Linked DNA regions of Homo sapiens: region 1 is linked to region 2. A link means that fine-mapping ties the variant in region 2 to the expression of a gene that starts in the linked region. Tissue or cell type: whole blood. Region 2 holds a variant in brackets; the other region holds the start of a gene. All regions are shown on one strand. Distances are from middle to middle.

Region 1 (8,114 bases), 38 kb after region 2:
CCTTGCTAATCTTAAAACTATGTGCCAAACATAACCTAGGACATGCAAATTTGTGCTCGAGGTCTACGTTTCTCAAACACCGTAGCAATAACACACAAACCAGAGGACTCACATACACATTCCCCTCCCCATGACTTCATCTCTTCTCCCAATCTTGGAATGTAGGTGATTGAGTTATTAGCACAAATACAGTAATAACCTTGAATCCTTCTGATTAAACTTCGGAATTTTAATATTAGTAAGATTACTGCCTTGAACACTCCTCGGGGTGAATTGTGACAGGCCAGTGCATTGTGACACAAGATTGAATACTGTTGTTCAAAAACATAAATAGTTGCTACAGGTGCAGCAAATGGTGTGAATACAGGAATCCCATTCACAGTACTGAGGATCACATCTGACGCTGTCCCCAGACTCCGGTAAAGCGGCTTTCACCAGGAAATAGACACTGTTAGACTGAACAAGTTTCAACCAGCCTCAAGGAGAAGAAGCAGGTATTCTCTCTCTGGGACCTTCTCAAATCTGGACAAAAGGCTAAGTGCTGAGAATGAATCTGAAAATCCCCTGTGGGAATGGTGTCTGAATTCCATGCCACGGTTCTGCTCCTCGGTGTGGCCTTGCATCCTTATTTATTCACTCCAGCATTTTTAAGTGCCTCCTATGTACCGGGCTCTGGGGATCCCAAGTTGAGTAAAATAAAATCACTGCCCTGTCAGTCCCAGGATCTTTAAAGTGAAATGCACCCCCCACCCCTGTCCCCAGGGAAGGTGAAAGCACTACTCCAGGACAAGCCATTGAGCAATGAGAAGAAAATGAAGAACTCTGATTAGTAATTATAGTTTCATCTTTTTAACTTCTACTTTCATGATTGTAATTTTCTGTATAACTACAGAGGTTTTTGGTTCACATGCTCCAGCAATTAAGAATAGGTGAACAAACGCTTAGAGACCACGGAACTAGTCTCCTGATGTGTAACTGTATCTCAGTAAAGCTGCGATGGGAGAGCAGACTGGAAGTACTTGGAAAAAGACCCTAGGTGATCGCAACATGTCCCATATATGATCGACTGGAGTGTGCAAACCTGCAGCACTGGCCTTGCTTCATACATTGCTTTTGAGAATCACTGAATGAGCTAGTTTCCCCATGAGTAAAATGCAAATATGCTGTCCTTGAAAACCCTTTTAGAGAGGGTGGTTATATATATTTTTGAGGGTGAAATGAGTACTAAGGAGAAATAAGGAGTCACCAGAATGTACGATCACTCTACCTACAGGTCACAAATCTAAGAAAATAAAACACATTTGCACACCACCAAAGCTCAGAAAGTGCTAAGATAATGCTAGTTTAGGCACTCTAATTGAGACTGGTACCAATTATTTTTCTGTTTCCTAAGCCATGAACACTAACTTATTCTAAGGCCCAAAGTTGAAGATACAGCATTTCACCACCTTCAGTGAGTTCTACCAGAAGATGCTTTGGAGAGAGGAGTATGCTCTCATAAAAGTGTGATTATTTCTCTGTGGTTTTAGATACTAATGTAAAACAGCCCGTTTCCTTATAGGACAAGTCTACTCACTAAAATGTGAGGAATCTGCTAAACAAGGTCTTTACTACTGGTCAAAATAGTAAAATTGTGCTTTTCTATTCTATGCAGAGCCTTGCAAGAGGTTCAGGTAAAGGGACCTTTCTTTCTGCATTTCTTTCTGCACGAATTCCCTAAACGTTTCTAGAGAACTTGGGGAAAAATTAGTCCCATTTCCTCTCCACAGGTCTTCTTTCTCTTGATTCAATCAATTCCTGCTCAAACTTTCCCACTTAATGTAACTTTATGAACAAAATGCTCTTCACTGCAAAGTTAACTTTTTTTTTTAATGACAAGTTAAACTTCACTATACTGAAAAAAAAAAAAAACCTCAAATACATAACTAAAACTAACCTGAGACAGGAAAAATAACAAATGGGGAGGGGAAGGCTGAAGGTAGAAGAATGAAACAGGTTCCAAGACAACAGGCCTCGATGCTCACTAAAAGTCCATCCTGAGAGGGCAAGCGGAACACCTTTGCCACCACCCACCTGGAAATACAGCAATGCTCCTGCCTGCATAAAGATTTCTTCACAGGGTCCTTTAAAACTGTCTATTTCTAAGAGGTCCCTTCCACTACAGGTAAAAGGAAATTCCCTCTACCCTAGGGCCCCTCAGGATCCCTTCCTCTCTCACACGTTTCTTCGACTGCTCCTGATTTAAGCATTCAGCTGGCCACGCAACGCAAGAAGCAATAAGAACACAAAAACCCTACCCTGTTCCTCCTCTATCCGTGGCCTTTGCCACCACCTCCACAACCTAGTTCAGATTCCTCTTCTTTTCTCAAGGGAACGTCTAAAGCTCTCAAGTCCGTTTTGGCAGGGCGATTTTGTAAGTCTGAAACATTTCAGTGTGTCTCTCGATCTCAGGCAGCTCAAAAGAAAAGATCTGCTGGCTGCGTGAAGGTGCATTAGAAACCTGCTGCTACCTTGCAGCCTGGGCTGAGCATATGCTCCGGAACTTGCTTCTCTTCCAACATCCTGCACCTCAGGTCAGCATTCCTTCTTTAAAAGGCCTTGTTGGGTAAGAGCATGTCCACCAACAGAACCCTGTAATTCTCCCTTGTTTTCTCGGACTCCCCTGCGTGCTGCAGAAGCCTGGGCGTTAGTGGGGTAGTCCCGAGTGGAACTGGGCCGAGGTAGGTGCCGGGACGCACTACCTGGATGGGGCCAAATTGGAAGGAGATTCGCCCTGACTGAGGTACAGGTGTTTCTTCTCCCCACATGCTGGAACCCAGGAGGCTCCAGGTGCTTCCCCACGAGACATGCCTCGGTATGCAGACTGAGGCCAAGTTCTCGGCGCCCTCAGCCCCGCCAGTAGCGGAACTCCTGCCCGCTGAGCGAGGGCCCTCATGAGAAGGGAAGGTCGCGTGGACAGGCTGCCAGGGGCAAGCGTTTTTAGATTACTTCCTCCTTCTTGGCCCCAGATGCACTTGTGAGTTGGGGGTGTGCGCGGTGGGGTGGGAGGGTGCTTGTGCCCAAAAAGTCTGGGAACGAAAGCTACTGCTGGCTCGAACCCGGACTAGCAAAGTGCGGAAAGCCCGTGGCACAGGAGTGGGTGCCAGGCAGCCCGCACGCAGGTGACCGGCGGACCCCCTCCCCAGGCCCGGGCGGCGGCGGGGCGGGGTGGGGTGGGACTGACCCCTGGCTCCGCCCCGCGGCGCCCCCCGCTGGGCCCCGTTTCCTCCCCCCCCCTCGCGTCCCCGCCGCCCGCACTCACAGCGCTTGGGTGAAGGCGCTGAGCCCCTCGGGCACGGCCGTCAGCCCCTTCCCGGAGCAGTCCACCCGACGGTCGCCGTCGCAGCTGCAGGGCGCCGCGCAGAGAGGCGGCGCCGCGCCGCTGGGCCCGGCCGAGCCGAGCAGCCCCAGGGCGAGGAAGCAGAGCAGCCCTAGCGGGCCCGGCATTGCTGCGGCCGCCTCCCGCGCCGGCCTCTCCCGCGGCGCTGCTCGCTCCGCTGCCCTCCGATGTCCCCCGCCGCCCCCGGGCAGCCGGCCTGCGGGCTGGAGCGGGGGTCTCTTCCTCGGCGGTCCGCGCGGGCTCGGCCCCTTCAGCAGTCCGCCGCAGCGGCGCAGGGACGCGGCGCTCCGGAGTTTCGCCCTTCCCGCTGCTCCATGGACGCGCAGAGGCAGCCCCGCTCCTCCGGCGGCTCACGCCAGCCGGGCCGGCCCGGCGCAGCGGCGGGGGCCGCGCTCTGCCATCGCACCGGTCTCCCTGTCCCTGGCCTCTCAATGCAGCGGCTCTTCAAGGTTGCAGAGCGCAGCCTTCAGCCATGCCGGCCACTCGCCCCAGCCCCCGCCGTGGCTCTCGCACAAACACCCAGACTCTGGCTCGCTGTCTCCCAGCCGCGGCTCAATCTCTTCCCGTCCTTTTCCCTTCTAGGGTTGCACGCTCTGGTTCCCAAACCCCCGGCCGCTGGCTTATGCAAATCACTTAGGTACATGCAAAAGTATCCCTTCTCCCGGAGCGCCATTGGCCCGGGGAGGTCTCGAGCTCATTACTATGCAGAGAGGAGAGCCGCCATTGGCCAAGAGGAGGACCAGAGGGGCGTGTTTCTCGGGCGTGAGTGACAAGGTGGTGGTGGTTGTGGTGGTGGCGGCGGTGGTGGTGGTGGTGGTGGCGGCGGTGGTGGTGGTGGTGGTGGTGGTGGTTCAAGGCAAAATCTTGACTTGGCTGGATTTGTCTGGCAGGTTGTGGATTGAAGGTAGAAGGATAGTAGGACAAGGGGTCTAGTTTTTCCCTCCCCCACCCGTCTTTTTGTTCCCTCCGCAGAAATTGGATCTCCTAAATTGGATGACCTGGTAAGTAGAACTTCCCTCCAGCGTTCAGTTAAGTTTTAAATGACTCTCCGCTGTTCCAAAGGGCGAGGACGTCTGGAGCTCTGCAAACGGAAAAAAGATTTTGAAGAGGAGGAAAAAAGTTTCCCTCGATCTGACACACATCTTTGGGTTTTAGCTATACACTAAGTTAAAAGTGTACCCTCTCCAGTGCCTCACTTCACCTGGGATCTTTACACCTATCTTGATACACATTTGGTAGCTAAGTCTTAGCAATTCATTCTCCCCAGTCCTCTCTCTGTATTTGGTGTTTTTGGTGACTGCAAATTAGACTCCTTTCTCACGCACTTTAAAATCCTGAAACACAGGAATTTTGTAAAAGGTCAGAGAAAGTGATGTTTCTGAACACTGGACAATTTCCAAAACATCTGAGTGGGAGGTGACTACGGCTGAGAAGCCAGCAGCAACGTTGGTGTTAGGTAATTATCAGCATTCCCTCCTCTTCTGGATTTTGAGTCCCTGTGGCCTAATAGACCCCACGGAATCATTACCTGTACCAACTACGGCTTTAAGGGTACTTCGTTTCTTGCTCTCTGCCATGGCGTTGAGTCGTTTTACTCTATAATGGAGACATTTTTAATGAATACATTAAAACAAGCAGGATTCGGCCGGGCGCGGTGGCTCACGCCTGTAATCCCAACACTTTGGGAGGCTGCGGCGGGCGGATCACCTGAGGTTGGGAGTTCTAGACCACCCTGACCAACATGAAGAAACCCCGTCTCTACTAAAAATACAAAATTAGCCGGGTGTGGTGGCAGATGCCTGTAATCCCAGCTACTCGGGAGGCTGAGGCAGGCGAATTGCTTGAGCCCGGGAGGCGGAGGTTGCGGTGAGCTGGAGATCGCGCCATTGCATTCCAGCCTGGGCAACAAGAGCAAAACTCTGTCTCAAAAAAAAAAAAAAAAAAAAAAAAAAAAAGCAGGATTTAAAGATAATTATCATATAAAGTTGACTAGCCATCGTATGTAAATAAAACTTAGGACAATGGAAACAGGTTGATGCAGACCTATAAGTTTAAAATGAAAAAATTTTATCATCTTTGTATTTGGGAGTTTATCTAAAAGATAATGTCAGGTTGGGCACATAAGTCACATACAGTAAATCTGTCTAGAAGCTAGAGAGTTAATAAATAAACATATGCCTTCATTTCAAGTTTTAGGAATGACATATCTCCTCTCACTGCAGGGCTGAAAGACAACTTAAAGACCCCCAGAAAACTCTGGTTTTATAGATAAGAAATCTGAGGCTCGAGAGAGAGTGTGTTCTGCCCAACATCATCACGGAACAGCTCCTGGGCTCCTGGCTCCTAATCTGGTACTCTTAGAGCCTTCCCTAAATAGGCTTTCATCGTCTAAATCATTTCCATTATTTTCTAGCAACTGTCATGAACAAATAAGGAAGAAATTGTAAAGTTAGTTTCTGTAATCGTTTCTTTAAGATCTCTTCTTTTTTTTTTTTTTTTTTGAAACGGACTCTCACTCACTGTGTCCAGTGGCGTGATCTTGGCTCACTGCAACCTCCACCTCCCGGGTTCAAGTGATTCTCCTGCCTCAGCCTCCCCAGTAGCTGGTATTACAGGTGCCCACCACCATGTTTAGCTACTTTTTTTTTTTTTTTTTTTTTTTTTTTTTTAGTAGAGATGGGGTTTCTCATGTTGGCCAGGCTGGCCTCAAACTCCTCACCTCAAGTGATCCACCTGCCTTGGCCTCCCAAAGTGCTGGGATTACAGTCATGAGCCACGGAGTCCGGCTTATATGCAAATCTTGATTAAAAATGCAGAATGATTTAGTAGGCCTAAGTGGGGCCCAGAAACCAGCATTTTGTTGCACAGCAAGTGAAAGTGACACAGGTGATTCATGAACCACACTTGGAGAACTTTATTCTTTGTCTTCAAATAATAAAATCTTATGGCTGAAAACTTAGGTGAAAGGAGAGATTTATATTTTGAAAAAAGGGGAGATGCAGATTTTACTAAAAAATAAATTCCTATTGTCTATTAGATGACAAATGTAAGAAAGGAAGATTCAAATTTGCAGCTTAGCCAAGAAGATAAAAGATCAGGAACAAAAGACTTGGGTAGGGAACAGAAAAGATAAGATATATTGAAGTGTTTGTATTTCTTATTTGGTACATTTTGTATGCTTTGCATTAGAGATACATTGGTCAATTAGTCTCCATCTCTTGGATAAGATGTCCCAAGAAAGTATAAAGACAAAAAACAAAAAACCAGTGATTAAGGTAATATCTCAGATAACTAGAGAAAAATGATCAGCTCTTAAATAAATCATAAGGACTGGAAAGATACTGAGATAAACCAAATAAAAATTGACGGCAAGCAAAAAATAATAGGGTCTCTGTCTACAGATCGGTTCCTCTTAAAGTTTTCATTGGTTGTGTGTAAGTAAATTTGCGGCATCCACAGGCTAGATAAAAAATAGAACTGGGCTGCAACCCCTCTGCATATGTGGCATGGAGCTTATGGGCCATGAAGAAAGTACCCTATCGTAGTGATACTTGCCTTGGTGTCTTTGTGCAGAGCACACAGGACTTGTTGACTGATGGATAAGCTGGACTTCGGTTCTACCACCCCTTTACCCAAGAACTCTTGTAAACATAGAACCTGAACAAGTATATGCAGAGGCCCTACCTGTTGGGTGAACGGTTCAAGGTGCCCTGTTACAACAACAGCTCAGATACAGTGGGGGCTCTGAGTGCTGTAATGATTGACTGGATAAAAGTCCTCAAACATGTAGAATTTCACTTTTTATGAACTATTTCGACTTAGAAAAAGAGTTAACAGCAATCAGCTTAAGAAATATTACGAATGTAGTTGAAGCTCCCTTTGTACCACTCCCCAATCATATTCCTTTTCTTCCTCTCCCTGAGAAGTAAGCAGTTTCCTAAACTTTGTAGTTAATTCCCATGCATATTTTCATGCTTTTCGTATGCATGTATCCCTAAACAATAAACAGCATTGTTTTTCATATATAAATCAACATCATTGCGTACTGTTCTGCAACCTGCTTTTTCACTCAACCTGTGAGTGTAATCGACATTCACGAACTATGAGGCTTGTAACTTCATTTTTATTACTATATAATATTCCACTTAATGAAATGCCCAGTGTGTTAGGGTTCTCCAGAGAACAGAACCAATAGGATATATATAGAAATACAGAAAGAGATTTATTGTGAGGCACTGACTTATACAATTATGGAGACTAAGTGACAATCTTCCATCTACATGCTGAAGGCCCAGGAAAGCTAGTGGATTTGTTTTAGTCCAAACTTGAAGGCCTGAGACCCAGGGGAGTCAATGATGTTTTGGTCGAAGTCTGAAGGCCTGAGAACCAGGAGCAGTGAAGTCTGAGGGGAAGAGAAGACAGATGTCCCAGCTCAAGCAGAAAGCAAATTTATCTTTTCACTCTTCCACCGTTTTTTGTTTGTTTGTTTTTTTAAATGGTGTTTTGTTTTGTTTTGTTTTTGAGATGGAGTCTCTCTCTGCGGCCCAGGATGGAGTGTAGTGGTGTGATCTCAGCTCACTGCAGCCTCCACCTCCTGGGTTCAAGCGATTCTCCTGCCTCAGCCTCTCAAGTAGCTGGGACTACAGGCATGCACCACCACACCCAGCTAATTTTTGTATTTTTAGTAGACAAGGGGTTTCACTGTGTTGGCCAGGCTGGTCTTGAACTCCTGACC
Region 2 (8,000 bases):
ATGAGCATCCCCAGGCGGTGATAAGCCAGTAGAAACAAAAACAGTGCATTCCTCCAGCTCACTTCTATCTTGTTTCTCCACCCCTCGACCCCTTGCCTCAATCCAAGCCATCACCATCTCTCCCGGGACCACGACAGTAGCCTTCTGTTTGGTCTCCCTCTTTCCATGCTTGCCCCTCTGAATTTGACCTACACATGGCAGTCAAAGCAATCTTTTTAAAACAAGAAGACAATTCATGCCAATCCAGTGCTTAGCAGTCTCTTTGTTCTATATCAAGGCCCTACCTGAACTTGCTCCTGCATCCTCTCCAACATCATCTCAAATCATCCCCACCCCACTCCCAGCTCCCCCAACCCCCACAAGCACGCAAACCTCTCCTCCTTCCACCTTTGCACTTGTTCTCTGCCTGGTCTATTCTTCCCTAGCTCTTCCCATAGCACCTCCTTCTTACCTCCTGGTTTTCTCTCAAATGTCACCCCTTCAGACAGTCTCTTCTTAGCCCCCCTAAAATGGCCCCCAGTAAACTCTATATTACCAACCAGTTTATTTCCTCTGTCTAGTTATCATTGGATTTATCTTCTTTCCTTTTACTTTATTAGAAAACAAACTTTCTTCAGCATTAACCACTGAGCGAGGGGTTCTCAGAAAGTGGTCCAATGTCACCTGGGAATGAGAATTTGATAGAAAGGCACTTTCTTGTGCCCTACTCCAGACCAACTAATCAAACACTCTAGGGGTATTAACAAACTTTCCATGTGATTTTGATGCACATTCACATGTGAGAACCACTGCAGTATATTACAATGGCCCCTTATGCGTTCATGGTCTTCCCCACTAGAAAAGAACATTTATGAGGACAAAGAGCTAGTCTACCTTGTTCACTATCAATTTTCTAACCCCTAGCCCAACACCTAACATACTATAAACATTCACGGGGAGGAGATATCCTATTCCATAACCAATATTTGTGCTACTAAACTAAAGCTATGTAAACACCATGGACGTTTAAATGGTCTGCTGTTTTTCATCGTCCCCCAAAGACACTGCCTAGCCTGGGTTTGCTCTTCCTTCTGTTTTTCTTCTTCCATGACTCTTGGGTCACTATCTTTTTCTTCCATATTTCTTGGCACTCAGGACAAAAGGATTGTCCATCCAAAGAACTTACTAATCCGTGTAAGATGACCAATCTTCAAGAGCACTCCATCCATATAATATTATTTCAGTCTCAGGCAGTAGAACATGACTTTCAGCAAGGCTGCCTGAGTTCAAATCCAAGTTCTACCATGTATTAGCTGCGTGATCTTCCACAGATGGATTAAATTCTGTGTTTAGCTTCCTCATCTATAAATAATGAATCATGGCATCCACCTCACAAGGTTGCTGTGAGAATAAAGTAATTCATCATGTAAAGTGTTTGGATCATGCTGACATAAGGAAGGTACTCTATGCACATTGATTGTAATATGTCACATCCTGCCGGTTATTATCCCCAGCAGGATGGCAAATTCTTGGCCCTGGTGGTTCAGGACTGAAATACTGATCTACATAGCAGAGCATTGCCACTCACTCCTAGGCAAGGAATAAAAAGGCATTCCACATACCAGGAGCACTAACCCTACTTAAGATGGGCTAGTCTTTACAATTCCCTAAATCCTCCTTCCCACAGTTTCCTACTGTACGCTAGCAGCCTTTTCCACTTGAACACCTTCTCTCCCCAGCCACCATCTTTGACCTTGCTTTCAAAATGCTCAGAAATAAAACAAGTATTTGTTTAACAAATTAGACATTTCCTGGAAGATGTCTGCAATTGAATGAAATTGCCCAGAGGTGGTCAAGCCACAGGATAAGGAGTACAGGAGACTGGCTCACCTACTTCATATAAAGTGTTTGTCCCAGAGAAGACCCAATGGCAAAATTCAAAGAGGTGGACATGGAAAAAAGCAGCCTATTTCTGCCCTTCAAATAACAGAGGAAAATAAAGAGAAAAGAAATCATGGAAGAACAATTGACATATAACGAAGAAGTTCTGGATATACCTAGAACTTACAGACAGCAGCAAATATTTTAGAATTACTAGGACATCCGAGAGTGTCTAAAGCAAAGCGCTGACAAGCCTAAGATCTTACAGAGGACCCCCCATTGCTTCTGGAGGCAAATTTAAACTCCTCTCCACCCACTGGAAGAAATTGAGATTCTCCATCAGTTATACTACCTTAATCTTTTTCTTTGCATGCTTCACCTATATTCTTCCGCTCTGGCTAGGTCCTCTTCCCTTAGATCTCCTTACCCGTATATCCTCCCCACCACAACAGCTGGTTTCTTCCCACTTTTTTTCCCACTACACCATTGCTACTCAAAACCTGAGTAGTCTGTAAACTGTTAACATTCCACAATGAGACAAGCAGAGCTACTGAAAGTTCACATCATGGCAACATGACAAATTTTATGATTTTGAATCAATAATAAGAACTTTGGGTTTGTATTATGTAGGCTTTCTTTGCTCCATTTTATTTTCCTGAAAATTAATGTTTATATTTTATAAAAACACGAACCATATTGGATTGGAAATTAAAAACTAAAACAAAAAACTGACACATCAGAAAAGGAATGTTAAGGAACACTACCCTAGATCAGTCACAGGGAACACTCGTCTATTCTTTCTTTTTTTATTTTTTTGAGACGGAGTCTCGCTCTGTCATCCAGGCTGGAGTGCAGTGGCGCCATCTCGGCTCACTACAAGCTCCGCCTCCCGGGTTCTCGCCATTCTCCTGCCTCAGACTCCCCAGTAGTTGGGACCACAGGCGCCTGCCACCATGCACGCCCGGCTAATTTATTTTTATTTCTTTTTTTTTTTTTTTAGTAGAGATGGGATTTCACCGTGTTAGCCAGGATGGTCTCCATCTCCTGACCTTGTAATCTGCCCACCTCAGCCTCCCAAAGTGCTGGGATTACAGGTGTGAGCCACCATGCCCGGCCCACTCTTCTATTCTTTTCTCCCACAACCTAATGTTCTTCAGAGTGTGCTCTAAACTATCCTCCCTGTGAATGTTTCTCCTATAGTTTATACCCTATTATCATGTAAGCGGCTGGAATTTTTTAAATGAACTAAACAGAAAGGCAAAACAAATCATTCATTCTATTCCTGTGCAAGTTCTTTGCACTAAGGAGCCCGTTATTTGCTTTATGCTTCTCTCATCCTTTGCACAACACAGACGCAGCACAGTGTGGTGGTTCAACTTCTGGGTTAAAAAGGGACTTAAAAATGGAGTCCAATTCCCATGGGCCACAGCCAAACTTTGGCCATGTGACCTGAAGCAAGTCCCTTAACTCTTCTGAGCTTCTAGTTTCTCTTCTGTGATGTGAGGTCGGCATGGCATGCAAAGCCTTCCCAACTCTAAAATTAAATGATGTCTGTTTGTTCTTAGAAAGGCTCTCAGGTTCCTCACAGTCAAATGGGAAAATATCTCCCCTACC[T/C]CAGGGCTGGGAAGATTGGAAAGCACCATTAAAACCACAGAGCCTTCTGGGAACTTAAGGCATTTTTATTACTATCCTACATATACTAGGTGCCCATGCAGAATTCATGAACCAAACATAGAAACTTCACATATTCAGCCTCCAAAACTGAAGGCCAGGACAGTGAGGGATCTGGAACCTGACGAGGCAGCCACTGAAAAGAGAGGCTATTTGTTCTGGAGAAGATGAGATTGAGGAAGAAACCTGAAGAGCTCTCATGTAAATAAGAGAAGAATATCTCCATTGCTCTAGATGCATGAATTAAGTACAATCAATAGATGCTTTCAATGGGAAAGGAAGGAAGAAAGGAACTAATAATTCCAAAATGTTTAATATAGCTTAGTGTTTACATCTCATTTCCCCTTTTAATATTCACAACTCTGGCCTTACATACCCAAAGTAAAATAATTTTTGGTGAAGTAGAGGCCTGTGGTCTGTCCACTACACTGAACTGGGAAGCTAACTGTATCACAAAAAATAACAAAAAAGATTACTGTTAATGTCTTGAGCTGTTCAGTAAGAGAAGCCCCTGCCTTGCCAGAGATACTAAACGCAGTGGCTAAAGACAATCTGTCAAGGACACTAGAGAAGAGCTTCCTACCATGAATGTGACTCCTAGAATTCTGGTACCTTAAATCAATACAATGCCTATTCATAGCCCCTGAAATACCACACAACTGGAGAGACCAATTCAAGGTTGTCAACTTTTTTATTTTGACTTATAAGCACATTTATAAAACAACTCCATCAATCTAAAGAGGGGAGAGGGGAGGAACATTAAATTTAATATTCTCCCCCAAAAGCCAAACGGTATGATCTTACAATAAAAGATGGCCCCTTAAAGTGACTAATAATAGAGTCACTTAAAAATCATGACAATACCCCTAGTTTTCATATTTCACCATGCAACGTGTCAAACAGGCAGCTGGAAACCCACAACACTACACCAGATGACCTTCCTGACGAGCTACTTATAGATAAAACTTGGCCAGGTGCAGAGGCTCATGGCTGTAATCCTAGCACTTTGGGAGGCCAAGTCGGGAGATCACTTGAGATCAGGCGTTCGAGACCAGCCTGGCCAATATGGTGAAAACCCATGTCTACTAAAAATACAAATTAGCTGGGCATGGTGACGCACGCCTGTAATCCCAGTTGCTTGGGAGGCTGAGGAAGGAGAATAGCTTGAACCCAGGAAGCAGAGGCTGCAGTGAGCTGAGATTACACCACTATACTCCAGCCTGGGCAACAGAGTGAGACTCTGTCTCAAAAAACAAACAAACAAACAACAACAACAACAACAAAAACTCAGAGATAACAATGCTACTAGACAGAGTCTCTTAAATGATCAAATTCTAATGATGGTATTATCCTTTCTAGATAACACTTATTTGACCAAGTGCCTCTTCTGTTCTGTTCATCAGCTACTTTTTTTTTTTTTGAGATGAAGTCTCACTCTGTTGCCCAGGCTGGAGTGCAGTGGTGCAATCTCGGTTCACTGCAACCTCCGCCTCCTGGGTTCAAGCTATTCTCCTGCCTCAGCCTCCCAAGTAGCTGGGATTACAGATGCCTGCCACCACACCCAGCTAATTTTTGTATTTTTAGTAGAGATGGGGTTTCATCATGTTAGCCAGGCTGGTCTTGAACTCCTGACCTCAAGTGATCCTCCCACCTCAGCCTCCCAAAGTGCTGTGATTACAGGTATAAGCAACTGTGCCCAGCTCATCAACTACTTTGAATGCATCTAGTGCCAGGCTGGAGGCAAATGGTTCACATATCTTAACCTCACAATAATCCTAAGAGGTAGGTTCTATCGCTATTCTCATTTTACAGAACTGGAAATGGAACTTCTTTTTTTTTTTTTGAGACGGAGTCTCGCTCTGTCACCCAGGCTGGAGTGCAGTGGCGCGATCTGGGGCTCACTGCAAGCTCCGCCTCCTGGGTTTTTGCCATTCTCCTGCCTCAGCCTCCTGAGTTGCTGGGAGTACAGGCGCCCACTACCACGCCCGGCTAATTTTTTGTATTTTTAGTAGAGATGGGGTTTCACCGTGTTAGCCAGGATGGTCTCGATCTCCTGACCTCGTGATCCACCCACCTTGGCCTCCCAAAGTGCTGGGATTACAGGTGTGAGCCACTGCTCCTGGCCAAATGGAACTTCTTAAAGTCACCTCGAAATGATGTCAAGCCAGGATCTGAATACCCAGACAATCTTCAAAATCCTGTCTCCCGAATCACTACACCATAATGCAAAGAAAGAAAGAAATAAAAGACAGAGAGAGAGAGAGAAAGAAAGAAAGAAAGAAAGAAAGAGAGAGAGAGAGGATGGGAGGGGAGGGGAGGGGAGGGGAGGAAGGAAGGAAAGAAACTGTCAGGCACTAATGAATGATTTTAAGAAATATTCTAAAACTACTTATTTATCCAGGAAATTTATCCTGGATGGATAAATTATAAGGATGGATGTTTCACTTGGCTTGGTGAAAAGTGAAGACAACACTTATATAACTAACAATATATATGTAATAGTGTTTTCACCATATTTTTTTATCATGTATATGGAGAGGAAAAAGAACAAAATCCCAGGAAAATAAATCATGATAGCAGTAAAGATATTTTCTATAAGCCCTACAATTTTTGTCATTATAGTTTACAACATGGCAATAAAAATAGCTATTGGACCACTCACTCACCACAGGTGTTAATATCGTTTGTTCATATGTTATTACGTACCTATCACACAGCTGCAGGTAACTCTAACCCTACATGTCTTACGCTTGCAAATCTTGAATCTGTTTGATAGATAGGCCCTTAGCTATACCAGTCTTTGCACTGCATTGCGGGGATAGGAGGGGGTGTTGAAGGGAGATGGAGGGATTTGAGGGGGTGGGAATGGCACTAAAAAATCTGGCATATATCTGTCTGTTTGGTTACTAACTAGTTTTAATTTCAAAAAATCCCCCCTTCCATTTTACTTTGGTTCTTCTGCTGTTTCCACCCAATATTTAGATAGAAACATGAGCCAAAAAAGTTGGGATGGGTCTTAAATTTGGGGGCCAGCAGGCTAAAAAGCTTGGCCCAGAATGCAAACTGCCACTTATGTGGCTGACTCAGGACAACCAATGTAAACATGTAAGTTAGTCCAAATATACACACACTTGTTTATATTTTAAAACTTATTTTGCATCTTAGTAATTTCTTCCCTAAAAATAGCCAAGGAACCCTACTGTTTTGGCCAATTTTTTTTTTTATAAATTGCTGTTTTGAAAAGAAATTATAATTATCCATGTGTATTGAACAGACCAAAGACATGCTACTATTTTCTAGTGTTGAGAAAAGTTTCAAAGTGCTACCTAGAAGCAATCATTAAAACCAACGTACCTCCATAAAATGCATTTTTTATCAAATGCTTTATAAATAAATAGTGAGTTAAAATTGAGAAGGAGTGACTATTTTTATTGCATGTCACCTGGTCAGGTATTTCCTGCAAGAACAGGGACTAGATCCGTCCTTCCAATCCTTGTAATGCTAGGCATGAAAAGAAGGTGGTCCTATTTTTAAAGTCTTTATGGATTTTTACTTGAATCTCTTTTAAAGGACTAGTGTGTGTGTGTGTGTGTGTGTGTGTGTGTGTGTGTGTTTATGCTAAAAGAAATCATAAAGCTAGGCACAATGGCTCAAGCTTATAATTCCAGCACTTTGGGAGGTACAGGCAGGAGGACCTCCTGAGCCCAGGAGTCTGAGATCAGCCTGGGTAACATAGTGAGATTCTGTCTCTACAAAAAAGATTAAAAAATACAGCCAGGAGGGGTGGCGTGCCCTGTAGTCCCAGATACTCAGGACAGGGGTGAGGTGGCTGAGATGGAAGGACAACTTGAGCTTGCGAGGTTAAGATTGCAGTGAGCTATGATCGCTCCAGTGCACTCCAGCCTGAGCAACACAGCAAGACTCTCCACCCGCCCCAGGAAAAAAAAGACATAGAAACCATAGAGATGACCTAGTTCAAGTCATTCTCACCCCCACCTTTGGAACTTGTACTGATGAGTAAATCAAAGGCCATTTCTTTATTCAAAGCCACACAACCAGAATCAAGACCCAAATCTTGGTCTGTGCATTTTCCACATTTCTCCCAATACAAACTGATAACTAGTATGTATTACATAAAAACATCATTATCTAAAAATTGCAAGAGATGGCAAAACAAATGCAAGTCTAGAATGAACATCTATTTTCCTTACCTAAGACATTTATACTCTTCTGAAAAATGTATAGCAATAGTTCTCAACCAGGGGTGATCTGGCATTGGAGACAGTTGGCAATGTCTGAGGATATTTTTGGTTGCCACCACTTGGCAGGCAGAAGCTGGGAGGTTACTGGTATCTAGTGAGTAGGGGCCAGGGATGGTGTTAAGCCTCCTACAATGCCTAAGACAGACCCTATGATGGTTAATTTTATGTGTCAACTTACTAAGCCATGGAGTTCCCACATATTTGGTT

What was found. PIP is the estimated chance that this variant, and not a neighbour inherited with it, causes the effect.
Region 1: it holds the start of LGR4, and the variant in region 2 is fine-mapped to the expression of LGR4 in whole blood (TOPMed, PIP above 0.99).

What each region holds. Positions count from the first base shown.
Region 1 is chr11:27,468,817-27,476,930 of GRCh38, forward strand. It overlaps LGR4 (leucine rich repeat containing G protein-coupled receptor 4), which reads right to left and starts at 3,974. Exons shown (of 18, transcript NM_018490.5): 1 at 3,302-3,974. The coding sequence starts at 3,486. LGR4-AS1 (LGR4 antisense RNA 1) reads left to right here and starts at 2,915. Exons shown (of 4, transcript NR_131170.1): 1 at 2,915-3,016; 2 at 3,962-4,141; 3 at 4,352-4,380. RefSeq lists silencers at 3,088-3,147, 3,398-3,567, 3,698-3,747.
Region 2 is chr11:27,430,555-27,438,554 of GRCh38, forward strand. All of the region lies in intron 1 of LGR4 (leucine rich repeat containing G protein-coupled receptor 4), which reads right to left. Among named protein-coding and RNA genes, the nearest start is that of LGR4-AS1, 37 kb to the right of the region's middle. The variant T/C (reference allele first, on the strand shown) is at 3,475.